Linked DNA regions of Homo sapiens. The protein of the gene in region 4 purifies or fractionates together with the protein of the main gene of each other region. This does not show direct contact. Each region holds a gene or a part of one and is shown on either strand. Other genes may lie near its edges. The genes, in order: SGSM2, DNAAF5, TBC1D15, PTPRN, METRN, CYB5D2 and ADPGK.

Region 1 (3,500 bases), on a different chromosome or scaffold from region 4:
GTTTTAAGATAAAAAGGATAAAAGGATATATCAAAGACCTCTCCCCAACAGTGGTAGTTTTTGGATTTTGTTTAAAAAAAAAAAAAAAAAATGAGGCCGGGTGTGATGGTTCACACCTGTAATCCCAGCACTTTGGGAGGCCAAGGTGGGCAGATCACCTGAGGTCAGGAGTTCGAGACCAGCCTGGCCAACATGGTGAAACCCCTGTCTCTACTAAAAATACAAAAATTAGCTAGGTGTGGTGGCAGGCACCTGTAATCCCAGCTACTCAGGAGGCTGAGGCAGGAGAATTGCTTGAACCTGAGAGGCGGAGGTTGCAGTGAGCTGAGATAGCACCACAGAACTCCAGCCTGGGCAGCAGAGTGAGACTCCGTCTCTAAATAAATAAATAAATAAACAAACAAACGAGACAGGGTCTCTCTCTCTCTCTGTTGCCCAAGCTGGAGGGCAGTGGTGCAATCATAGCTCACTGCAGCCTCAACCTCCCGGGCTCAAGTGATCCTCCTACCTCAGCCTCTGGAGTAGCTGGGACTACAGGCGTGCACCACCATGCCCAGCGAGTTATTTATTTTTTTGTAGAGACTGCATCCTGTAATATTGCCCAGGCTGGTCTCAAGCTTCTGGTCTCAAGGGATCCTCCCGCCTCAGCCTCCCAGAGCACTGGGATTGCAGGTGTGAGTCACCATGCCTGGCCCCATAGTGGTAGTTTTGAGTCCATTCTCCTAGCGCCACCCTCCACTGGCACGGAGGTGGCAGTTACATAGGTTCTGATCCTCGGGCCTGGGAACAGCACACAGAGAACCCCACCCACCCCCCTGCTGCCGCCAGACTGGTTTGCCAGCGAAAACTTCCACACAAGGAAAGTTTCTACTCGCAGGGGCCTACTGCATGTCCAGCTTCTGGACAGACAGGTTTAGGAACAACCACAGCAAACACTCAACAAAGCAATTTTCTAGCCAGTCCTAGGAGTCTTGCCCCTCCCGTTGGGTAACAGGAATGGGGATCTGGCTGCAAACTTTCCTGGGTTTGCCCATGGTCAGGTCTTGACACAGTGATTCTTCAGGAAGGCTCTCCAGGAAGGCTCTGTGTTTTCTGTTTAAATGTCTGCATTCTAAGAAGCTCAGAGAAGCTTGTATTGCCTAGGCCTGGCTCTCCTCAGTCACCCCCAACCCTCCTCTGCCAAGAACCATGGGTCGGTGTGGAGTTGAGGGGCCCAGTACACAAGGGTCCCTTGAAACTAGGGACCGTGGTGTCGCTAGGCTGGTAATCCAGTCTCCACAGACTTCACTCTGCTCTTGACCTCTCAGCACGTTCTCTATACTCCCATTTCTCCCACAACAAAGCTGAATTCGGACGTGGCTAGGACAGTAGCAAGGCACAGTTTAAGTCTGGATCAACTTCAGACTAAAAATGCATTTCAGAGCATTTTTCCAGGGACTGAGGGAGACTGGCACATCAGAATCTCCAAAAAGGCAGAGAGGGGTGGTGTTTTTGATCCATACCTTGCTAGTCTTCCCTCCCCGTCCCCCGCAAGAGTCTCTCGTGATTCCACCATGCAATGCAAGGAAGCTGCTTTGCAGGCAGAGGAAAAAGGTTGATAATCAATGCTTTCAACGAGCCTCAGTTTCAGCCCAAATTGGGATTTAGCTCACCACTGAGCACCAATTTTGACAAAGCATAAGGATTTCTCTGTCTGTAGGCCCTGAGATACCCTGGCCTGACTTAGCCCGATACTGTTGGAACCTCTCCTGCTCCTGTTCTCCGTGACTGTACCGAACCCAAAACAGAGGCTGCACACTGGCAGAGGCTGGCAGATGTCTTTTGTGTGGCCCACACAATTTTTTTTTAAATGGGAATTAGCTGTCAGTATTTAAAAAGTAGGAATTTTTTTTTTTTTTTTTTTTTGAGACAGAGTCTCGCTCTGTCACCCAGGCTGGAGTGCAGTGGCGCGATCTTGGCTCACTGCAAGCTCCGCCTCCCGGGTTCACGCCATTCTCCTGCCTCAGCCTCCTGAGTAGCTGGGACTACAGGCGCCCGCCACCACGCCTGGCTAATTTTTTGTATTTTTAGTAGAGACGGGGTTTCACCGTGTTAGCCAGGATGGTCTCGATCTCCTGACCTCGTGATCCGCCCACCTCCACCTCCCAAAGTGCTGGGATTACAGGCGCCCGCCACCACGCCCTGCTAATTTTTGTATTTTTAGTAGAGACGGGGTTTCACCAAGTTGGCCAGGCTGGTCTCGAACTCCTGACCTCAGGTGATCCACCTGCCTCACCTCCCAAAGTGCTGGGATTACAGGCGTGAGCCACTGTGCCCGGCCGAGAATTCTAATACTCTTCAAAGTTGCTTATCATAATACTGGCATGCCTTTTTTTTTTCCAGAGCATAGGTTCTGCTGAGAAAAACTGAGGTCAGGCTGTGTCTTGTAAACCTAGGAATCATTATTCCACCATCTCAAAGAACTGGGGAAACCTTCCCAAACGGACATGGTATGAACTCAAGTCCTACAAACCTACCTTCAGCCTCAACAGCCAAAGGAGGAGAGACGAATATTCTTTGAGTGCTTACAATGCTACGAACGAATGAACATTTACACACATCATCTCAATCCCCACGAAAGTTCCTTGAGGTGGGAATCATCAGTCTGTTTTTAGAGGAGCAAACTGAGGGTGAGAGAAGTTAAGAAACTTGTCCAAGACGACTTAAAAGGCAGGACGCCAGGATTCAAACCCCAGTCTGTCACTCAGACTCTGCTCAGAGGCTGCCTCTCCGACTGCCCTCCCACATGTTTTTTCTTCCTAGCTCTTATCACATGCCAAGTTATTGGATGACATATTTACTTGCGCATTTGTTTCCTGTCTGTCTCCCCAACAGAATGTAAGCTCCTGCGGCAGAGACTCTGTCCATCTTGTCACTGCCATTTCCTTGCACGGTGAACGGTGTCTGGCACCTGGTGAGCCCTTGGTGGGGATCTGCTGCTGGATGAGGGGAAGGGCAGCTGTATCTGCTGTGCCACACTACCGTCCAAAGCATCCCTTCCCTTATCTGTTCTTTCATTATTTTCCCTCCACAAACCCCAACACCAATCTCAGAGGCCAAGGAATACAACACAGAGAAGGTGAATGGTTCCCTGTCCCTTCAGATGGGGGGTTGAGAGGAAGCTGAAATTCCTAGAAATCCAAGAAGAGTCTGTGCGTAGGGATAGGCTTGCTCCTACAAAGCAAAAGTCTTCAGGCTGAGGAGGCGGAAATGGTTTATAAGCGACTCTCTCCTTTCTGGGGCTGGAAGGCTTGGCCACACTGAGAAGGAGGTGATGAGAGAGTCCCTTCTGAGGCTGGAAGCCTTAGCCACCTCTCCTAGCCCACGCTCAGGCTCCTTTGCATCCAGTCAAGGGCTTGGGGTTAGGATCATGGAGCAACACGGGTGGGAAACAAAGGGAAAGTGGCACAGAGCATCCGAAAAGCACAAACCCCTCCCTGAAGTCAAAATCAAAATCAGTC
Region 2 (3,500 bases), on a different chromosome or scaffold from region 4:
AGCGAGACCCTGTCTCAAAAAACAAACATTTAGAGCCACACAGAGATGCAAACAACACACTTGCCACACGTGCTGACGTGTATGATCAGAGAGACACGCCTGCGAAGCCGTCCCCCTATGATCAGAGAGACACACGCCTGCGAAGCCATCGCCATATGATGAGAGACACGCCTGCGAAGCCGTCCCCCTATGATCAGAGAGACACACGCCTGCGAAGCCATCGCCATATGATGAGAGAGACACGCCTGCGAAGCCGTCCCCATATGATCAGAGAGACACACGCCTGCGAAGCCATCGCCATATGATGAGAGAGAGACGCCTGCGAAGCCGTCGCCATATGATCAGAGAGACACGCCTGCGAAGCCATCCCCATATGATGAGAGAGACACGCCTGCGAAGCCATCGCCATATGATGAGAGAGACACGCCTGCGAAGCCGTCGCCATATGATCAGAGAGACACGCCTGCGAAGCCGTCCCCATATGAGAGAGACACGCCTGCGAAGCCGTCCCCATATGATCAGAGAGACAAGCCTGCGAAGCCATCGCCATATGATGACAGAGATACGCCTGTGAAGCCGTCCCCATATGATGAGAGACACGTCTGTGAAGCCGTCCCCATATGATCAGAGAGACATGCCTTCGAAGCCATCGCCATATGAGAGACACGGCTGCGAAGCCATCGGCATGGTGGGGGTGACAGCTGCGTCCTTCGCCCGGCTTCCTCTGCTCCTCTGCACTGCAGCCCCCAAGGCACCCCGGCACCCCTGGATCTGTCCCGTGACTGAGCTGCACTTTCTAGAGCCTGACACAAGTGGAAGCCTCTCGTTCACTCTCCTCCCTTCTCCGCTTCTTTCACTCTGCATCGTTTTCTGAGGCCCGCCTGTGCCCGCTCCTTTCTGAACCTGGGAAGTGGCCTGTTCTGGGGAGATGCCAGTTTAGTGCCCGCTCCTCTGTGGAGAAGCATTCAAATGGTGTCCAGGGCAAGTCTGTGTGGCCTGGGCTTTCACTGTGCCGGGACAAATACCAGCTGTGGAAGGGCTGGGCCACAGGGAAGGTGCACGTTTAACTGTTTTAGAAACTGTCCAACCATTTTCCAAAGTGTTTGAGCCAGTCCGCGCTCCTTCCCACTCTCAGCGGCACGCGGTACGCTCAGTCTTGAATTGAAAGCAGTCCGAGAGGCACAGTGGCATTTCCGTGTGCTTTTCCTTTGCATTCCCCGATGACTAACGACGCCGAGCGTCTTCTTCACAGGCTTGTTTGCCGCCTATCTTCCCTGGTAAAGGGTCTTTCCAAATTGTTTTCTGCCCATTTAAAAAAATGGATTGTTTTCCTGCTGAGTTTCAAGAGCTCTTCCTATACTCTGGAGATAAATCCTTACATACATCATCTCCAAACATCTCAGTCTTTGGTTTGTCTTTTCGTTTTTTCAACAGGCCTTTGAAAAAGCAGAAGTGTTCATTTTGATGAAGTCCACACATTGCTTTACCCTGTTACAGAGCGGTCTTTTGAGGACGCACCCAGGGAAGCGTGGCCCGGCCCACGGTCACGAAGCCTTCGTCCTAGCTCTGCGGTCTTTTGAGGATGCACCCAGGGAAGCGTGGCCTGGCCCGCGGTCACGAAGGCTTCGTCGTCACTCTGCAGTCTTTTGAGGATGCACCCAGGGAAGCGTGGCCCGGCCCGCGGTGACAAAGGCTTCGTCATCACTCTGTGGTCTTTTGAGGACGTATCCCGCGAAGTGTGGCCCGGCCCGTGGTCACGAAGGCTTCGTCGTCACTCTGCAGTCTTTTGAGGATGCACCCAGGGAAGCGTGGCCCGGCCCGCGGTGACAAAGGCTTCGTCATCACTCTGCGGTCTTTTGAGGACGTATCCCACGAAGTGTGGCCCGGCCCACTGTCACAAAGGCTTCGCCCTAGCTCTGCGGTTCTGGGCTTTACCTTCAGATCCCTGACGCATCTGGGGTTAATTTTTTGACTCCAAGTTCACTTTCTGGTGTATGAGTGATCCTATCATTTACAGTATCCTTATTAAAAGATGCCATTAAATGGTCTTTGAGCCTTCATCAAGTCAGTGGTCCGCGTGCGGGCGCCTGTTTCTGGACGCTCTCGTTCTGCTCATCGGTCTGAAAGCCAACACCACGTGGCCCCATGACTGTGGTTTTGTGAGTCTTGCACCCAGGACCTGCTGCCATTCAGCTTCACTCCTCCCCAGTGTTTCGGCAGCTGTGGGTCCTTTGCACGCCCACGAGAATTTCACAATCAGTTTGTCGATTTCTACAGAAAAGCCTTCAGGGACTTTGATGAAAAGATTCTGATCTTCAAAATTCAGGCCGGGCACGGTGGCTCATGCCTGTAATCCCAGCACTTTGCGAGGCCAAGGCAGGCGGGTCACCTGAGGTCAGGAGTTCAAGACCACCCTGACTAACATGGTGAAACCCCGTCTCTACTAAAAATAGAAAAAATAAGCCGGTCGTGCTGGCGAGCGCCTGTAATCCCAGCTACTCAGAGGCTGAGGCAGCAGAATCACTTGAACCCAGGAGGTGGGGGTTGCAGTGAGCCAAGATTACACCACTGCACTCCAGCCTGGGCGACAGAGTGAGACTCCATCTCAAAAAAAAAAAAAAAAAAAAATTCAGAACAACTGTAAAGATAGAAATGAAACCATGATATGTCAGGATTTAAAGGGTCTTTTTCTATTTTTAGAGAAAGGGTCTCACTCTGTCACCCAGGCTGGAGTGCAGTGGTACGATCACAGCTCACTGCAGCACTGACCTTCTGGGCTTAAGTAACCCTCCTGCCTCGGCCTCTCAAAGTGCTAAGATTACAGGTGTGAGCCACTGCATCCAGGCTAAAGGGTATGTTTTAATAAGAACAGCTTGTACCAGGACACCCCATTTTTAACCTTTTTCTGGTTATTTTTCTGTTTTTATCCTGTATTATGGAATTAGTTCCAAATAATTAAAATTCTGCTGGCTGTTTAAATGATCCTGTCATCATTTTGTAAAAAACAAAAAAGCCAGGGTGCAAACACACCTCTCTTCGTTTTTTTTTGAAATGCAGTCTCGCTCTGTCATCCAGGCTGGAGTGCAATGGTGCGATCTCAGCTCACTGCAACCTTCACCTCCTGAGTTCAGGCAATTCTCCATTCTCATGTCTCAGCCTCCTGAGTAGCTGGTACTACAGGTGCATGCCACCACACCTGGCTAAGTTTTGTATTTTTAGTAGAGATGGGGTTTCACCATGTTGGCCAGCCTGGTCTTGAACTCTTGACCTCAGTATTACAGGCATGCGCCACCACGCCCAGCTGCACCTTTCTTCCTGATGACGATCCGCTCTGGAAAGTTTGCAAAATGAGAGATGCGTGACCAGGAACAGCCGGGGAGGGGTCTGCTGACAGCTGAACAGAGCTTTGTGGGCACCTGGGCTTCTGGGTGTTTCCAAAGAAATACTGGCCGGTGCTGGGCAGGGGTACGCAAGGCCTGGACACAGGCTGGGACTGGTTT
Region 3 (3,500 bases), on a different chromosome or scaffold from region 4:
ACTCCCACATGCTTAGCGTTCCAATAATGGAACACTAGGCATAAATACATTAACCCATTTTTAACCCCCAAATTAAGACACTAATTTAACAAAACTGATAAACATTTAAGTACGATTCCAGATAGAGACCATGTGGGTTTTACTTCTAATCTGAGAACAGAGGAAGTGAGCATAAAGTAATCCACTTTTAACTTGTAATCAGCACAATGCCTTGTCTAATGGTAGCACAGCCATCAATAGTATAGGAATCCATTTCCAGCTGTAAAAACCTCAGAGACCACTAGAGTTCCACTGTATAAAGTTGGATTTACAATCAAAATGGATTATCTCCCAATTCTTTCCTTGGAAGAATTTCTGTTATCCTAAGGTATGATCAATCATTATACCAGCATTCTATGAACAAGCACACTGGGCTGGACACAGTGGCATACACCTGTAGACCTGTAGTCCCAGCTACTTATAAAGCTGAGGCAAGAGGATTACTTGAGTCCAGGAGTTCGAGATCAGTCTAGGTAACATAGCAAGACCCCTTCTCTTTAAAAAAAAAAAAAAAAAAAGCACACTGATTTATTATTAGCAAATACTTTAGAAAATGTGAAATGATTTGGTTTTTCATTAAAGGTTGCCATGGAAAAATAAACACTGGGGATTACACATGGGGGGATGGTGTAAGGGAAACATGGGATGTAAAATTACCTATTGGGTACTATGCTCACTACCTGGGTGATGGAATCATTCACACACCAAACCTCAGCAACATGCAATTTACCTATGTAACAAACCTGCACATGTACTCCCTGAACCTAAAATAAAAGTTGAAAAAATAAAGAGTTGCCTTGGGTAAAAAATGGAACAAAAGGAGTACACCAAAAACATAAGAATATCCTCTATAACAGATGTGGCAAAGCCTCACATAAAGTCAAGTCTCACAAAGGAAGAACAAAGGCAGCAAATGGTCTAGAGCACTTGTTCTGGGATACCTCTTGGCCCCAAATCTCACAGAGATTGTGATTTGAAGAACGAAGCTCCAAAAGACCAAATATTCAGTGTGAAACTAATTTTTAAGAAGAGGCTACCAGTTCATCAGAATTTTGGAACATACTTGCCTTAGATATTTCAGTAAGGCTATCATAATTCATTTACACTCTACAGAATAAATTGTTTCTTTTCATAATAAATATCACATTTGCATAATAATTTAAGGACTTACCTCCCATAATCGAAGAATATCTAGAAAACTAAATTCCCTTTTGAATCTGATTAAAAGCCACCTGAAGCAAAAATAAAGGTATCCAGAGTCCTGAGATTCTATGCAGAAGAAAAAAACACACATATGACTTACTCTTATGCTAATTATGTCAGAATACAGTTACTTTTCTCTAACTTTCCTATGCATCTTAGGCAATTCAAGGCCCTATACATTTGTCTTCTACGTTAAGGAATCATTTCAAACTTGAAGGCTGACTTCTTTTTAAAAACTAACAAATAATACATTTTACGAATCAAGTTTAAGGCAGAATTATACAAAGAGAGTTTGGTTCCACATTTTTATGGAACCGAAGAAAGTGCAATAGAGTATATATGTCTTTAAGTTCTTTTTTATTGAGACAGTGTCTTGCTATGTCACCCAGGTCGGAGTGCAGTGGAGTGATCCCAGTTCACTGTAGCCTCAACCTCCTCGGCTCAAGTAATCCTCCCACCTCAGCCTCTTGAGTGGCTGGGACTACAGGCATGCATCACCACAGCCAGCATTTTTTTTTCCTTGTAGAGATGGGGTCTCACTGTGCTAGCCAGGCTAGTCTCAAACTCCTGGGTGCAAGTAATCCTCCCTCCTTGGCTTCCAAAGTGCTGGGATTATAGGCATGAGCCACTGCACCTGGCTTCTTTAAAGAGTTCTTTACATTTTTTTCTATGCATTACTCTACAATTTGCTGGGTATAGTTCTGATTCACTAAACTTACCTAAGTAACTGCAAAATCCACTGTCTAACAATCGAAGTAAGGTACTCAGCTGAATTAGCTGGGTCTTCATGCCTTGCATTTGTTCTTCAAAATTCTGATGCTTTAAAAGGAAATAATTGTTACAAGTAATATTTAATAAATATTTTATAGTACATAATGACTGATAACTAAAACATGATGTCTAAGGACAAATGCTGAACTTATACCACACTGGTAATCTTAAAAAATGCGTAACTAACCAAAAATCTAACGTAACACTAAAAGGGAGGGTAAAGAGAAAGAATCCTTGCTCTCAAAACTAAGGATTATTTTTTCCTCTATTCATTTGACTTAGATAAAGAAGAATGCAGACATAGCAACTGCAGACTGACTATTTATTTCTTACACAGCATAAAAGACTTGGTGAAAGAAACACACATTTGGGAAATAAATATTTATCAAATTCTTTCCATTGTTAAATATTCCTTCAAATTATACATAATAAAATTAATTTTAGTTTTAGTATGTATTTCATTTTAAAGAATTACTTTACATTGGAGAATCTGTAAAGCCAAAACCATTTTCAGGACAATACTAAAACATTATCTGGATTTCATACTTAAATTCTTTCACAAGTGCAAAGGCTGTATGATGTGTGATACTCCAAAAGACTGAACACAGAAGCAAATATGAAAATTCAGCTGTCTTCTATTAAACCAGACATTTTTAAAAATGAAAAATTTAAAACAATCTCTTGTGTCGGTAAATTTTTCATTAGGAAAGGTTACTTTTCATTAAAAAAAAGTGATCTATGTTAAGGTAGAATGTGTTGTTATTTAATGAATTAATAAATAAATGAATACAAGTTTCTCAGTATTAATTTTTCACATAAACATCAACAGATATAACCCACATAAACAAAAACTCTTTCAGGTCTTCAATAATATTGGAGAGTGTGAAGGGGCCCTGAGGTCACAAAGTTTGGGAACTGCTGGGGTTCATATGCTTTAAAGAAACTTCATAGTTGAGTAGACTCCCTACCAACACCTGAGTCAAGGGGCCAGAAGGCACCAAAACTGATGCTCTGAAAGGCTTCTTAAATGATTTGGATCCCTTTAACTCATATGTCCCGATCCCTCTGTGGTAACCTACCGCCCTAACCCTAGTGAAAGCCTTAGAAAAACATTTCCTCCTTCACACTTACTTTTTCACTTTTACAGTACAATAGTGCTTTATTAGAACTATCATATTAGAAACAATTCATTCTTAAAAAAAATTTAAGTCTATTAATTCTCAATAAGCTGTTTCTCTTTAATGAATTTTAAAAACCAGTTTATTAATAGACTAACTCAAGGCTTTAGGATATAGTTCCTCCACATTTACCAGAGAGATCTATAGAGAAGGGGCAGAATCAACTCTGATTAACAGGATCATTTTTGCTGTGACACAGTCAAAGACTAGAGCTGATCTGGGAATACCAACATGGCATAGACATTTGCTACCCACTCTGCTGTAAAAAAGAAACATGTCCATAATGACAGACACCATATTCGAAAAAGT
Region 4 (3,279 bases):
AGGAGTATGCAGGTGACTCCCAAAGCAGAAAGGTCATAAAGGACAAGGGCAGGTTAGATGGGTCCATTGAGAGACGGAGAAGCCCCCTGCTCCTCACTGAGTTGTGGTCAGGGGCAGTGGAGAAAGGTCTGAGGTCCAAGGGGACCCCAAGTCTGAATATAACGCAGCCACAGAATGCCTGTGCTGAAGTGAGACTGCTCCAGGGAGACAAGCAGTAGCACAATGTCCCGAGTTGAGGGGTTGGGGTTGTCCTCCCCTGGCCCAGGGAACACTATGCCCAGGGCAGCCTGATGTCACAACTGGTAAGGACCACTGGAGCCTGAGTCGGGAGGAAAACAGCCTGGGTGGTCATAAAGAATGGCAGAGGGCCAGAGCAGGGATGTGGCAAGACTGACACCCTTGAAGTCACCAGAAAGCTATCCCCTTGGACTTGGGCAGAAGTGTCTCTTAATATGATGATGTATTATCATTAATAGTTGCCACCTGCTACCATGTATTGAGCACCTATTGTGTGCCAGACCTAGCACTTAGCTCTTTACATGGGTTATCTCATGTGATCATTGTAAGAACCCTAAGGAGGTTTTTCTTACTATCCTCCATTTTACAGGTAAGAAAACTGAGGCTCAAAGAGGTTAAATCAGTTGTTCCAGGTGCATAGCTTGGGCACCTAGCTTGCAAGTGACAAGGCGAGCCCAATGCCACCCACACCAGCTCTGGTTCTTTGCCTCCAGCCCTGGCTCCTTTCTCCAACCATCTTCCCTCTCTGCCCCGGGCAGGTGGGGAGAAAAGGAAGAAAGAGAGGCCCACGTCATGTGTTTCAGCTTCCCTTTCCCTCTCTGCTGGTGCCCACTGGCCCTCACACCCATTTCTTGTTGCAGGAAGGTGAACAAGTGCTACCGGGGCCGCTCCTGCCCCATCATCGTGCACTGCAGGTGGGTGGAGAGGAGATTCATCTCTCTGGTCCCACTCCCTGTGTGCGTCTCCTGTGCACATTGCCTGCCTGTCCCCTTGGTGCTAGCAAACTGCAGGCATAGTCCAAATCCAGCACACCACCTGTTTTTAATGGCCAAGACCTAAGCGTGGCATTCACAGTTTTAAATGGGTGAAGAAAAAAGAAGAAAAGTATGTGATACAAACTGTATGTGGCCCACAAAGTTGAAAATATTGACCATTGGCCCCCTATACACAAAAAGCTGGCTGAAGGCTAGAGAGGCCCATCCAATTCCCTCCTGCTGCCTCTGCTTCTGGGCTGAGCCATGGCTCTCCTCTTTGGTTGTCCCATTGCCCAAATGACACCCACAGGTCACAGACTCCCCTCTCAAGGCCCAAGTCCCAGCGTGCAGGTGCTATGAGCTTTCCTTCATCCTCGGCTCACTGTCCCTCTCCAAGCCAACCCCAACGGGTCACCCAGTGTCCTCCCCTCCCCCAGGCCTCCAGGCCTCCTCGCCTCCTCCGTCCCTCCCCCTTTCTGCTGCATCTCAAGCTAAACCTGTCACTAACTCCTGTTTCAGTGATGGTGCGGGGAGGACCGGCACCTACATCCTCATCGACATGGTCCTGAACCGCATGGCAAAAGGTAGGGAGCTTCCCCACGGTGCCCGCAGCCCCCAGGCCCTTTTTAGAGGCTCCCCAGCACACAGGGTCCTGGGAGCTCAGAAGGAGCAGGTTGTCAACCTCCAGGCTCTGCCCAGCCCTCCAAGGCTCTTTGCCTCCAGGAGGCCTCAGGTTTTCTGGGTCCTGTCCTCCTCTGGACACCCCCTGAGCAGCCCCATCCCCACCTCCATCTCCAGGAGTGAAGGAGATTGACATCGCTGCCACCCTGGAGCATGTCCGTGACCAGCGGCCTGGCCTTGTCCGCTCTAAGGTGACCATGCCTTCCTGCCCCAACCCCAGCTCCCACCCTTCCCTAGCACCCACTTCTTGGCCACCCCAGGGAAAGCAGCAGCTGCCAACCTTTCCCACCTGCTTCTGCGCCTCCTCCAGGAGGGCTCCCTTCCTCCCAGGGGACCTGCCCAGGGCCCTCCCCCCACCAAAAGCCCCCCATCTTGAGGGCAGAGCACAGGTCAGCCCTCTCCATGACCATCCTACCACTGCCCTTCCTCAGGACCAGTTTGAATTTGCCCTGACAGCCGTGGCGGAGGAAGTGAATGCCATCCTCAAGGCCCTGCCCCAGTGAGACCCTGGGGCCCCTTGGCGGGCAGCCCAGCCTCTGTCCCTCTTTGCCTGTGTGAGCATCTCTGTGTACCCACTCCTCACTGCCCCACCAGCCACCTCTTGGGCATGCTCAGCCCTTCCTAGAAGAGTCAGGAAGGGAAAGCCAGAAGGGGCACGCCTGCCCAGCCTCGCATGCCAGAGCCTGGGGCATCCCAGAGCCCAGGGCATCCCATGGGGGTGCTGCAGCCAGGAGGAGAGGAAAGGACATGGGTAGCAATTCTACCCAGAGCCTTCTCCTGCCTACATTCCCTGGCCTGGCTCTCCTGTAGCTCTCCTGGGGTTCTGGGAGTTCCCTGAACATCTGTGTGTGTCCCCCTATGCTCCAGTATGGAAGAATGGGGTGGAGGGTCGCCACACCCGGCTCCCCCTGCTTCTCAGCCCCGGGCCTGCCTCTGACTCACACTTGGGCGCTCTGCCCTCCCTGGCCTCACGCCCAGCCTCCTCCCACCACCCTCCCACCATGCGCTGCTCAACCTCTCTCCTTCTGGCGCAAGAGAACATTTCTAGAAAAAACTACTTTTGTACCAGTGTGAATAAAGTTAGTGTGTTGTCTGTGCAGCTGCAACCCAGACTCCTACGCATTTCTGTCCGCTGTGCATCTGGACTCCAGCCCCAGCCTCAGCCCGGAGCCGGTCCCTGCTGGTCTCTCAGGAGGTGCAGAGAGCACAGCAGGAGAGCGCCAGCTGCCAGTAAGGCCCTTCTAGGTGGGAACACTACGTTAGAACGAGGCTTCCTATGCAGCCAGCAGTCTCCAAGGTGCTTTACATGATGAGTCCCATTTTACAGATGGAAAGACTGAGGCACAGAACTTGCTTGTGGTAACACGTAACACAACTTGTAAGATTGTAAGGTGCAATGGCTCATGCCTGTAATCCCAGCTCTTTGGGAGGCTGAGGCAGGCAGATCACCTGATGTCAGGAGTTGGAGACCAGCCTGGCCAACATGGAGAAATCCCGTCTTTACTAAAAATACAAAATTAGCCGGCCATGGTGGCTCGCGCCTGTAATCCCAGCACTTTGGGTGGCTGAGGCAGGCATATCACCTGAGGTCAGGAGTTCGAGACCA
Region 5 (4,236 bases), on a different chromosome or scaffold from region 4:
CTTCCCTCACAGGCCTGGCTCAGAGCCGGAGCGCTGTGCGCCCGCCTGCCCCCACCGTACCCGAGGGACCCTATGCCCCTCTGCCCCTTTCCTCTCCTGCTGAGCCCCAGAAGCACCTGGCACGGGAGGCAAGTGGGAGCCAGCCAGGGAAGCAGGCAAGGGTGCGGGCAAGGACGGGGCTGGTGGGTGCAGCAGAGCAGAAGCTTGCATGAGTGCAGGTCCCCACGTGCCCCCCACCCAGCAGCGGCCCCTCCCCGGAATGTGGGTGTAGCTCCTCCTGACATCTGCTCTCCCTCTCAGTTGCCAAATGGTCTTGAACAAGATACCATTCCCCTGAGCCTCAGTCTCCCGCCAGGAGGCAGGAATTGGAGCCATCCTCACAGCTGCGAGGCAGGCCCAAGGCTGGGCTGGACACAGGAGACCAGGTCCACAGCAGCTTGCGTGAACAGAGTTCTTATTGATAGTCCCATCACCTCCAAAGCAGTGGGCCCACCCTCCCTCCTACCAGCCCCTCCCCAGCACCCAGCCCCTCAGTGCAGCGCCACCTCGCAGGGGTGGAGGTGGGCAGCACGGGCAGCCTCGTAGGCACGGCGGAACTCCTGGAATCGTGGGGCACAGCCCAGCCGGGCCTCCCCAAAGCGGCTCCAGCCCATGAAGAGGAAGGTGCCTGGGCCCGGGTGGACGCCACAGCGCAGTGGGGTACGAATGGAGGTCAGCCCCTGGTCCCCGGATCGCCCCGCCTGGAACAGCGGCGGTGTCTGGCGGAGGACACGGGCGGCCACCACAGTGATGACAGACTCCTGCAGCTCCACGTCATGGGTGACCCCATGGATGATCCCGTGAATTACTGTGGGGAGGCATGTGGCTGCGGTAGGCATTCAGGGGAAGGCAGGCTCCAGGCTCCCCCCATGGCGGGGACACTCACCGAAGTCGCTGGTGCATGCGGCCAGGAGCAGCTCAGCGTCGCTGCAGGGCCTGCAGGCACCTGGCATGCAGAGGGGGTGGTGAGGAGAGGCCCTGCCCTCTCCCGGCATCACCCCAGGCCCCGTCCCTTGTCCGCACAAGCGGCAGGAGGCAGCAGGCAAATGAGCAGAGCCCACGCTCAGGGCCTGATGGCACCTGGGGGTCCCAGAGAGCTACACAGCAGATGTGCACGCCCTCGGCGACACCTGTACTCAGGAAACACACTTGCAGGCGCGTACCTCCAAGGCAGGAATGCACACAGACGTGGGCCTGGGGGCCATGCCTAGCGATCAGCTGTCCTGGGCCGCCCTCCTGCACTCCCATCTGACATATGCACCCCAGCATCTGGGACCCCTCTAGTTTCCCGGATCTGAGGTCTGAAGAGCAGCAGCCCAGCTAGGGTGATAGGAAGTGGGGGCAGAGGAAGGGTGGTCTGGGGTCCCTGGCCCAGGGCCAGGGGGCAGAATAGCGAGAGCCCATCCCTTTCAGGGTCAGGCGCCAAGCTCCAGGAGAGCCAAGCAAGAGCTGGGCCTGGTGCCCTGCAGGGAGGCGAGCGGCGTCTCCATGGTGACCGGGCTGCACACTGGACTTTTGTTGGTTGGGCTGGGGGAGGGGAGAGAGGTCACCGCTGGGCCAGGGAGCCCCGGACAGCTTTGGCCGGAGGCTTCGATTCTGTCCCCACCATCTCTTCCCCCAACCGTTCAGGGACCAGAGGCCCAGGATTGCTGGGCCCGGCCTCCCCTTCCCTCCACTCTGCCCCTGCCAGCTCTTTCCAGAGATGAATCGGGAAGGGAGGGCGGGGAGGCCATCCCTCCCCAGCAGTCCCAGGCTGTGTGGCCTGACAAGCCCATCCAACCCTTGTAGCTCACTTTTTCCTTCTGCAGTGGGGCCGACAAGGCACATTCCCGCCAAGCCCAGGCAGGGTAAGACTTCGGGACTCCCACCCTGTCCCAACCAGACCGCCACTCACCGTCTACGCCGAGACCGTGGGCCTGCGGGGGCAGCTCGGGGCGCCCGTCCTCGCGCAGCTCAAAGCGGAAGGCGGCCACGCGGCGGCTGATGTCCTGGTGCGGCGTGGCCTGCAGGAAGAGGGCCCGGCGCTCGCGGGGACCCCAGCGCACGCAGCGGCCCCCTGCCGGGCCCGGGCCCTCGGCCAGCAGCAGCTCCAGGGCGCCCCCTGCGCGCTCCGCGAAGACCTGGGCGCCCGCGAAGGGCCGCACCGGCCGCAGACAGGCGATGCCGGGCCGCGCTCTGGGATCGGGGCCGCCCAGGGTCAGGCGCAGCGCCCCAGCCGGGTACAGCCACTCAACCGCGCCCTCCGCACAGGCCAGGGCCAGCTGCCCCACGCTGCCGGGCTCCTGGGTGAGGCCGCTGGGGACAGGACGGGACGGGGCGCTGAGACGGGGGCGGGTCCCCGCCCGGCGCAGCCCCCGCTCCCTCCCGAGGCCGCCTCGCGGATGGGGAAACCGGCCCAGCGCTCTGCGCGCTCCGAGGGGCGCCTGGGGGGTCCTAGCCGCAGCGCACCCCGTCCTAAGTGCGGGGACAGCCCCCCGGACCGTACCTGCCCCTCCAGCTGCAGCGCTCCTCGGAGTAGCCGGCGCGGGCAGCCGGGGCCAGGAGGCCGCAGCACAGCGCGCAGAGCAGCGCCGCGGCCGGGAACCCCATGGCACGGCGGGCGGCGTCCGGGGAGTCGGGGCTCTCACCACCGCTGCCCCGGCGGGGCGCGGGTCCGGGCGGCGGCGGGAGCAGCCGGGGGCGCCGGCCGCCCGGCCCCGGCGAAGCCCCCAAGCCCGCGGCCGCTCCGCCTGCCGCGCAGCCCCAGCGCCGGGGCCGCCTTGGAGCGGGTCGGGAAGGGGGCGGGGCCTGCGGCGTGTCGGCCAGTCGCGGCGCGGCCCGGAACTTTCCGCCAATAGCAGGCGCGGGGCGGAGCGGGGGCGGGGCCGGAGCTCGGGCGCCGCCGGAGGACTATCCCACGGTCCAAGCGCCTCGAGGGTTGGGGGGGGCCTTGGCGCGGAAGGGAGGCTCCTTGCCCGCCCCGCGCTGTGCGTCTCTCCTTCGCCGCGCCCTCACCCTGGCCTCGCCCCCCGCGCTGTCCCGATCGGAGTCCTGGAGCCTCTGATGGAGCCGAGGTTTTGATGTCCACTGGAACCTCGGGGTGGCGGTAGGGAAGGTGGCCCACCTGGTGGTTCCGCCTCGCGGGCGGCCGGGCCTGCTCCTTCCTAACACTGGGACCTGGGCCTGTTGGCCACATCCCTCCCAACCAGGTCCGGTCCTGCTGACCAGAGGCCGGTGGAGCCCCAGAGGAGAGGGGTCATGACTCCAGAGGCGGGGAAGGCCTGGCCTGGGGGCTGCGCCTTGGAGCGGGGCCAGGCCTCGGGTTTTGGTAAGGCCGTCTGCAGGAGGGGGTCCTGCTGAAGAGCGCGCAGCCCGCAGGCTTAGGCCCCTTTCCTCAGACCTAGCGGCACCCCATAGTTGCCGGATGACCGACCCCGGGCCAGACGGGGCTCCTGGAGGGGCGTGAATGGAGCAGCCACGGGCACCCCTGCAGGCCTGCAGCACGTGGAGACACAGGAGCTGGGAGGACACCCCTGGGCCACAGGAGCAGCCCCCACCAAGATGAAACAAGCAGAAACAGGCGATTCGCAAACACACTGTAGCCTCAGGCTGGAGCAGTGTGGGATTCCCAGCATCCGGGACTGCTGAGTTGGCCTGATGGGAGGAAGTGGGCAGTGGCTGGCCAGGTGGACAGGAAGAGAATGGGGGAGAGCAGACAGCCTGGGTCAAGGGCCTGAGGAAGGAGCTCTTGGCAGCCCAGTGAAACCCCAGGGCATGGGTGGTGGGTGGGGACGACAGGTCAGATCACAGAAGGCCTAAGGCACAAGCAAAGGGGTCCCACTACATACTGAACCCCTTACGGACGACAGAAGCTTTAGCCGGGGACTGCAAGGACCAGCATAGACTGTGCAGCCTGAAGATGTGAACATTCCGTCCCCTGCCCCCAAACCTCCTGCCACCCGGCGCTCGAAACTCATGGTGGACAGATGAGTTCACCAGTGGCAGTCGGACAGATGAGGCCAGATGGCTCAGTGGCAGTGGGAGGCTGGATCCCACTGACCAGGCCCTCCCTCAACCCCAGGGCCCTCCCAGGCCAAACAGGAACAAGGCGCCTACTGGGCTCGGCCAGCCCCTTGCTCTGGGCGAGGTGCAGGTCAGAAGTAGCCATCACAATCCCCAAAAGGTGGAAGACTCCCAAAGGCCTGTCTGCAGCTGAGT
Region 6 (3,500 bases), on a different chromosome or scaffold from region 4:
AGCTCCCAAACGTATTACATCACAGTTTGATGCATGGTCCTATGTGGAGTTGTTCAATCTGTTTACTTGTCTATGATGGCTCTCTCTACTAGTGAGGCGCAGTACTCAGAACAGCTTAGCGCCAGGCGCAGCGGCTCACACCTGTAATCCCAGCACTTTGGGAGGCTGAGGCGGGCAGATCACTTGAGGTCAGGGGTTCGAGACCAGCCAGGCCAACATGGTGAAACCCTGTCTCTACTAAAAATACAAAAATTTGCTGGGCGTGGTGGTGCATGCCTGTAATCCCAGCTACCCAGGAGGCTGAGGCAGGAGAACTGCTTGAACCTAGAAGTTGGAGGTTGCAGTGAGCTGCAGTCGTGCCACTGCACTCCAGCCTGGGTGACAAAGCAAGACTCCATCTGAAAAAATATATAAATAAATAAAACAGCTTAGCATAGAGCATTCATTTTAAATACTTATTAGATGAATAAAGAAAGGAATCAGGGCCCGAGTCACAGGCCTGCAGTCTATGAGTTGGCCTGGCACAGAATTTCCCACTACGGGGGTTGGGGTGTCTGTGTTATATGGTGACAAGCCTGTCTTTGGTGAGTTTCTGACATGAGACCCAAAGAGAGGACAGTAGTAGCAGAGGCAACAGAGGAAGAGTTCTAGAATCTGTGTCATGAGAATGGTGATCACCAGTGGCTGCATCTCCAAGCCAATCCTGTATCCACAGCATAACCAAGGCCATCTTGTTTTCCCTTGAGGCCTGGCCATGTTGGCTGCCAAGATGGCTTCCTGGCTGTCCTCACTTCAGTATGTACCCTTACAATAAACCTTCATCCACTGATGTATCCTGAGGGTTTCTGGTAACCTGAAAGAGCCTAACATGGCCCCTATCCTACAGAATGAGCTAACAGGGGCAGGAACTGGACTCAATTCATCCCTGGTCCCCCTGAGGATGGAACCCGTAACTTATGAGTAGTAGGTATTCAATAAGATCCTGACATCAACTAAAATCCTTCTGAGGCATTTCCCGCCACATGCCCCACCCCATCCTCAACACATTATACATCATTCAAACAAGACCAGCTCACTTGTCACACCAAACGCATCCGAACACTTCCAGTGTGCTCCCAAATCTTAGTATGAAGTATTTGGCCTGGCATTCTTTGCCCATTTACAGGACTCTGTTCTTTTTTTTTTTTTTTTGAGACAGGGTCTCACTCCGTTGCCCAGGCTGGAATGCAGTGATGTGATCTCGGCTTATCGCAACCTCTGCCTTCCAGGTTCAAGTGATTCTCATGCTTCAGCCTCCTGAGTAGCTGGGATTACAGGTGTGTCCCACCACACCCAGCTAATTTTTTGTATTTATAGTAGAGACATGGTTTTGCCATGTTGGTCAGGCTGGTCTTGAACTCCTGACCTCAACTGATCCGACCACCTCAGCCTCCCAAAGTGCTGGGATTACAGGCATGAGCCACCGGTCTGGACTCCATTCTTATTCTTTTTCTTTTTTTTCTTTTTTTTTGAGACAGAGTCTCACTCAGCCACCCAGGCTGGAGTGTAGTGGTGCGATCTTGGCTCACTGCAACCTCCGTCTTCCAGGTTTAAGCAATTCTCCCGTCTCAGCCTCCTGAGTAGCTGGGATTACAGGCACCTGCCATCATGCCCGGCTAATTTTTGTATTTTAATAGAGACAGGGTTTCACCATGTTGGCCAGGCTGGTCTTGAACTCCTGACCTCAGGTGGTGATCCGCCCACCTCGGCCTCCCAAAGTGTTAGGATTACAGGTGTGAGAGACCACTCCTGGCTCTTATTCTTTTCTATTGGGTTTTCTTTTCTTTATTAACCCAGTAATGTTTCAACCTTGGTTTGGCAACTTCATTGGGAAAGGGAAGAACCCAGCCCTCTGAAGCGCAGGTGAGTAGAGGTCAGTGCCTTCGATGGTAGACAGGGTTATGGTCTCAAGACTGATCTTGGGCATACGAGAGAAAATGAAGAAAGGCGTGCTGCAGAGGCCCACAATGGATGGACACAAACTTTAGATATTATGAAAAAGCCATGATTGATTGGATGTGGAGGGAGCTGAGGTGTTAATAAAAATGCCAAGGTTCTCAGAAAAGGTAACTCAAGCAGTGATGACAGAAGCAGAAATTCAGAGGCATTAAGGAAAGAATTCTTCCAAGTTAGACCTGTTTCGATGGTGAAGTGATACTGGTGTTCCTCAGGAAGTCAGTCATGTCCAAGTAGGACTCCAGTGAGACGTGGGGGCTGCAGATAGATAGAAGAAAGGGCTACGGCCATCCCAGTTGTCAGTACTTGTGAAGCAATCTAGTGTTTAGTGTCTTTCGTTGAGGCTGGAGTGCAGTAGCGCAATCTCAGGTCACTGCAACCTCCATCTCCCGGGCTGAAGCGATTCTCCTGCCTCAGCCTCCTGAGTAGCTGGGAGTACAGGTGCGTGCCACCACGCCCAGGTAATTTTTGTATTTTTTAGTAGAGACAGGGTTTCACCATGTTGGCCAGGCTGGTCTTGAACTCCTGACCTCAAGTGATCCAACCGCCTCAGCCTCCCAAAGTGCTGGTATTACAGTCGTGAGCCACTGCGCCGGGCCTAGTGTTTAGAGTCTTTAACACTGCTTTAGGACACAGTTTGGTGTTGTCTCATTTGAGAAGCAAGTCCCTTATGTAGCATCAGTAAGTAGCAAGTGCAGTAACCTACACAGTGGTTTGATTAGCATAACTACCACCTGGGAGACAGCTCACTCACGAAGTTTGTCTCCTCCTAGAGGACCAAATAAAAGGGGATTTGTCGAAACACAAATTCAGGCTTCAAGCCCTTCTGGCTGTGTGCTGAAGCCAGATGCATCGAACACAGTGAGACAGGGAAGCTGCCCTTCTGGAGCTGGTTGTTCAAGGATGGTGCAAGCAACCACTGGCTATGGCGAAACTGAGGCCAAAGCAAGCAGCTTAGTAATCCTCTCCCAAGACTAAGAGTGGGGGAAGCAGGTGCCCATCCATCTCCTTCTGGGCGGCTCATCCCTATTCTAACGACCAGAATTTAAAGTAAAACAAATCCATGGCTGTTTTTCAGATTTTAAGCTTGAACCCAATCCCTAAAAAATCTCAGCCCCCTAAAAACACTGCAGACAACCAAATGAAATGTATGACCTATGGACGACTTACCAACACACACATAATTCTTCTCATAGAATGAAAGCCAATTGTGAAGTGTCAGCATCTCAGCGGCTGACAGGTCGGATACGTCATCCACGAGGCCTGCTTCAGAACAGTCCCCGGTCACGAAAGCTCTGGATGCGTCTCGGCCTGGAACAGAGATGTTTCCATCAGACCCAGGTGTAAACCACTGACACCATCCCCACTCAAGAATCTGTTTTCTTTCTTTTTCTTTTTTTTTTGAGACGGAGTCGCACTCTGTTGCCCAGGCTGGAGTGCAGTGGCATGATTTCAGCTCACTGCAACCTCTGCCTTCCGCTTTCAAGCCATTCTCCTGCTTCAGC
Region 7 (3,500 bases), on a different chromosome or scaffold from region 4:
GTACAGTATAAACCCTAATGCAACCACTAAGAAAAAAAGAATTATACCTAATAAAGTCAGAGAAGATAAAATGAAATCATAGAAAATAATCCAAAAGAGTACAGAAAAAGAGGGACAAAGATAGAGATGGGGCAAACAGCAAACAAATAGCAAGATGTTAGATTTAAACCTAACCTGATATATCAATAATCACATTAGATGTAAATGGTCTAAACACTCCGATTAAAAGGCAGAGATTGTCAAAGTGGATTAAAAAGCAAGCCCCAACTATACGCTGTCTATAAAAAATACACTTTAAGGTAAAAAGATGCAAATAGATTAAAAGCACAAGGACAGAAAAAGATATACCATGCCAATACTAATCAAATGAAAGCTGGAATGGCTATTTCAATCAAAATAGATTTCAGAGCAAAGAATATTATGAAATGATTTTATTTATCCCTAGTAATGATAAAGGAATTAATTCATTAAAGGGATGTAACAATCCTAAACATTTATGTACCTAATAAGAGTTTCAAAATACATAAAGCAAAAAGTTACAGAACTATAAAGGAAATAGACAAGTATCCAAAATTACAGTTGGAGACGTCAACATACCTCTTAATAACTGACAGATCAAATAGACAAAAAAAAAAAAACCAATAAGAATATAGAAGACTTGAACAACACTATCAATCAACTTCATCTAATTGACATTTACAGAACACTCGACCCAACAACAGAAAGGCTTATGTATATTCTTGAAGCTTTCAAGTACACACAGAACCTCACCAAGATAGAATATTCTGCACCATGAAAAAGGTCTCAAAAACTTAGTAGGATTCAGGTCATAGAAAGCATATTTTCTGACCATACTGGAATTGAAATAGAAATCAGTAACAGAAAGACATCTGGAAAATCCCCAAATATTTAGGAACTAAATAACATACCTCTAAGTAGTCCATGAATGGGCTATTAAATGGCACATCTCAATAAATCAAAGGGATATTAGTATTTTGAAATGAATGAAAATAAAAATAATCCATCAAAATCTTTGGGATGCAGCTAAAGCAGTACTTAAGGGGAAATTTATAGCACTAAACCCCTATATGAGAAAACAGGAAAGGTCTCAAATCAATGATTGTAGCTTCTCACCTTAAGAAACTAGAAAAAGAGCAAGTCAAATCTGAAGCAAGCAAAATCCAATGAAAATAGAAAAACAGAGAAAAATAAATTCACCAAAAGCTAATTACTTATTAAAAAGAGCAATAAAATTTATAAACCTCTAGCCAAGCTGATCAGGAAAAAAAAGAAGATACAAATGACCAATATCAGGAATGAGAAGGAAAACATCATTACAAATTGTAGAGATCTTAAAGGAATAATAGAATACCATAATTAACTTTATGCCAATAAATCCAACAACTTAGATGAAACAAATTCCTTGAAAGATACAAACTACTAAAGCTCATTTAAAAAAAAAAAAGGAAAATCTGGATTTCCCTATATCTATTAAAGAAATCAGTTATTTAAAATCTTCCTACAGAGAAAACCCTGGGCCTAGAAGGCTTCACTAGAAGGCTTAAATTCTATAAACATTTAAGGAAGATACAATACCAATGCGACACTCACTCTGTTTTAAAAATTGAAGAAAGGGCCAGGTGTATTGGATGAATCCAAGCACTATGGAAGGCTGAGGCAGGTGGATTACTTGCAATCAGAAGTTGGAGACCAGCCTGGCCAACACAGTGAAACTCCCTCTCTACTAAAAAATACAAAAATTAGCTGGGCATGGTGGCACACACCTGTAGTCCCAGCTACTCGGGAGGCTGAGGCATGAGAATCACTTGAACCTGAGAGACGGACATTGCAGTGAGCTGAGATCGCCACCACTGCACTCCAGTCTGGGCAGAGCGAGACTCCATCTTAAGAAAAAAAAAAAATTGAAGAGAAGATAGGTGTGGTGGCTCACACCTGTAATCCCAGCACTTTGGGAGGCTAAGGCAGGCGGATCGCTTGAGGTCGGGAGTTGAGACTAGCCTGGCAACATGGTGAAACCTCAAGTCTACAAAAAATACAAAATAATTAGCTGGCTGTGGTGACGTGTCTGCAATCCTAAATACTCAGGAACTCGGCTGAGGTGGGAGGATGGCTTGAGCCCAGGAGGCAGAGGTTGCAGTGAGCCGAGATCATGCCACTGCACTCCAGCCTGGATGACAAGGCCAGATCCTGTCTCTCAAAAAAAAAAAAAAAATTGAAGAGGGGGAAACACTTTCCAACTTATTCTACAAGGCCAGTATTGCCCTGACAGCAAAACCACAGACATTACAAGAAAAGAAAAATACAGACCAATATTATTCTTGGGCATTGATGTAAAAATTTTAAACACAATTTTAGTAAACTGAATATGTGAAAAGGATAATGAATACATCAGAACAAAGTAAGCTTTATCCTAGAGATGCAAGGTTGGTTTAATATGTGAAAGTCAATATAATTACCATATATCAAACTAAAAAACAAAAAACCACACAATAACCTCAGTAAATGCAGAATTTGACAAAAGCATTTGACAAAATAAAATAACTATTCCTAATTCTTGCCTAATTCCACAAGTATATATTTTTTTGAGATGGAGTCTTGCTCTGTCGCCCAGGCTGGAGTGCAGTGGCGCAATCTCGGCTCACTGCAACCTCCGCCTCCCGGGTTCGAGCGATTCTCCTGCCTCAGCCTCCTGAGTAGTTGGGACTACAAGCGCCTGCCACCATGCCCAGCTAATTCTTTGTATTTTTAGCTAAGACAGGGTTTCACCATGTTGGCCAGGCTGGTCTTGAACTCCTGACCTCAGGTAATCCGCCTGCCTCGGCCTCCCAAAGTGCTGGGATTACACAAGTATATTTTTTAAAGGCACGGTTCCTCTCCTGAAATTTGGCTTCTATTCTATCATTCCACTAAACCTGCCTTTACTATATTCACCAGCGTCTATTTCAAAGATGCAATATAGCATGGCTATTAGGAGAATGGATTCTGAAGCTTGACTACTTGGGTTCAATTCCCACTCTACTCATTATCAGGTATGTGATTTTCACCAGTTTTAACTTCTCCATGCCTCATTTTTCCTATCTGCAAAATGGGGATAATAAAAAGACTTCCCTTATAGGGCCCTATGAAGATTTAAATTGGTTCATACACATTTAAAGCACCTAAAACTTAAAACAGTGCCTGGTATATGGTAAAAAACTATAGAAGGAAGTGCCAGCTATAATTACCACCTCTGGAAAATACCTAGTTCTTAATCTCTGTAGTTCTCAGATGATCTCTCAGTCCATGTTGAGAAGCATTTCAGAAAGTTAAACTGAGTCTCTTTGAGAGTGCATACAGGGTGAAGTAAAGGCAGAGCCTGACACTTGAATCCTGACTCTATCATTTACTAGCCAGGTGCCCCTGGGCACCTTACTTAGCCTCTCTAGACCTCTGTCTTTGAAATCATAAGACTGTTGTGAGGATTGAGTAACAGAATGCTT

What was found.
Region 1: the proteins of PTPRN (region 4) and SGSM2 purify together in Homo sapiens (affinity purification with mass spectrometry; 2 studies listed by BioGRID and IntAct, with this or other methods). This does not show direct contact.
Region 2: the proteins of PTPRN (region 4) and DNAAF5 purify together in Homo sapiens (affinity purification with mass spectrometry, with the first as the bait; one large-scale study listed by BioGRID). This does not show direct contact.
Region 3: the proteins of PTPRN (region 4) and TBC1D15 purify together in Homo sapiens (affinity purification with mass spectrometry, with the first as the bait; one large-scale study listed by BioGRID). This does not show direct contact.
Region 5: the proteins of PTPRN (region 4) and METRN purify together in Homo sapiens (affinity purification with mass spectrometry; one large-scale study listed by BioGRID and IntAct). This does not show direct contact.
Region 6: the proteins of PTPRN (region 4) and CYB5D2 purify together in Homo sapiens (affinity purification with mass spectrometry; 2 studies listed by BioGRID and IntAct, with this or other methods). This does not show direct contact.
Region 7: the proteins of PTPRN (region 4) and ADPGK purify together in Homo sapiens (affinity purification with mass spectrometry; 2 studies listed by BioGRID and IntAct, with this or other methods). This does not show direct contact.

Annotation. Positions count from the first base shown.
Region 1 is NC_000017.11:2,344,001-2,347,500, reverse strand, and holds part of SGSM2 (small G protein signaling modulator 2), read right to left. Parts: intron 2,979-3,500; coding exon of another isoform or gene 2,841-2,978; intron 1-2,840.
Region 2 is NC_000007.14:750,699-754,198, reverse strand, and holds part of DNAAF5 (dynein axonemal assembly factor 5), read right to left. Parts: intron 1-3,500. UniProt on the Homo sapiens protein: Cytoplasmic protein involved in the delivery of the dynein machinery to the motile cilium.
Region 3 is NC_000012.12:71,916,259-71,919,758, reverse strand, and holds part of TBC1D15 (TBC1 domain family member 15), read right to left. Parts: intron 2,062-3,500; coding exon 1,962-2,061; intron 1,309-1,961; coding exon 1,211-1,308; intron 1-1,210. UniProt on the Homo sapiens protein: Acts as a GTPase activating protein for RAB7A. Does not act on RAB4, RAB5 or RAB6.
Region 4 is NC_000002.12:219,289,123-219,292,401, reverse strand, and holds the end of PTPRN (receptor-type tyrosine-protein phosphatase-like N isoform 1 precursor), read left to right. Parts: intron 1-878; coding exon 879-932; intron 933-1,511; coding exon 1,512-1,576; intron 1,577-1,790; coding exon 1,791-1,864; intron 1,865-2,104; coding exon 2,105-2,176; 3' UTR 2,177-2,779; downstream 2,780-3,279. UniProt on the Homo sapiens protein: Plays a role in vesicle-mediated secretory processes. Required for normal accumulation of secretory vesicles in hippocampus, pituitary and pancreatic islets.
Region 5 is NC_000016.10:713,682-717,917, reverse strand, and holds the start of METRN (meteorin precursor), read right to left. Parts: upstream 2,801-4,236; 5' UTR 2,629-2,800; coding exon 2,525-2,628; intron 2,335-2,524; coding exon 1,934-2,334; intron 986-1,933; coding exon 926-985; intron 848-925; coding exon 531-847; 3' UTR 1-530. UniProt on the Homo sapiens protein: Involved in both glial cell differentiation and axonal network formation during neurogenesis. Promotes astrocyte differentiation and transforms cerebellar astrocytes into radial glia.
Region 6 is NC_000017.11:4,149,697-4,153,196, reverse strand, and holds part of CYB5D2 (neuferricin isoform 1 precursor), read right to left. Parts: intron 3,307-3,500; coding exon 3,166-3,306; intron 1-3,165. UniProt on the Homo sapiens protein: Heme-binding protein which promotes neuronal but not astrocyte differentiation.
Region 7 is NC_000015.10:72,766,759-72,770,258, forward strand, and holds part of ADPGK (ADP-dependent glucokinase isoform 4 precursor), read right to left. Parts: intron 1-3,500. UniProt on the Homo sapiens protein: Catalyzes the phosphorylation of D-glucose to D-glucose 6-phosphate using ADP as the phosphate donor. GDP and CDP can replace ADP, but with reduced efficiency.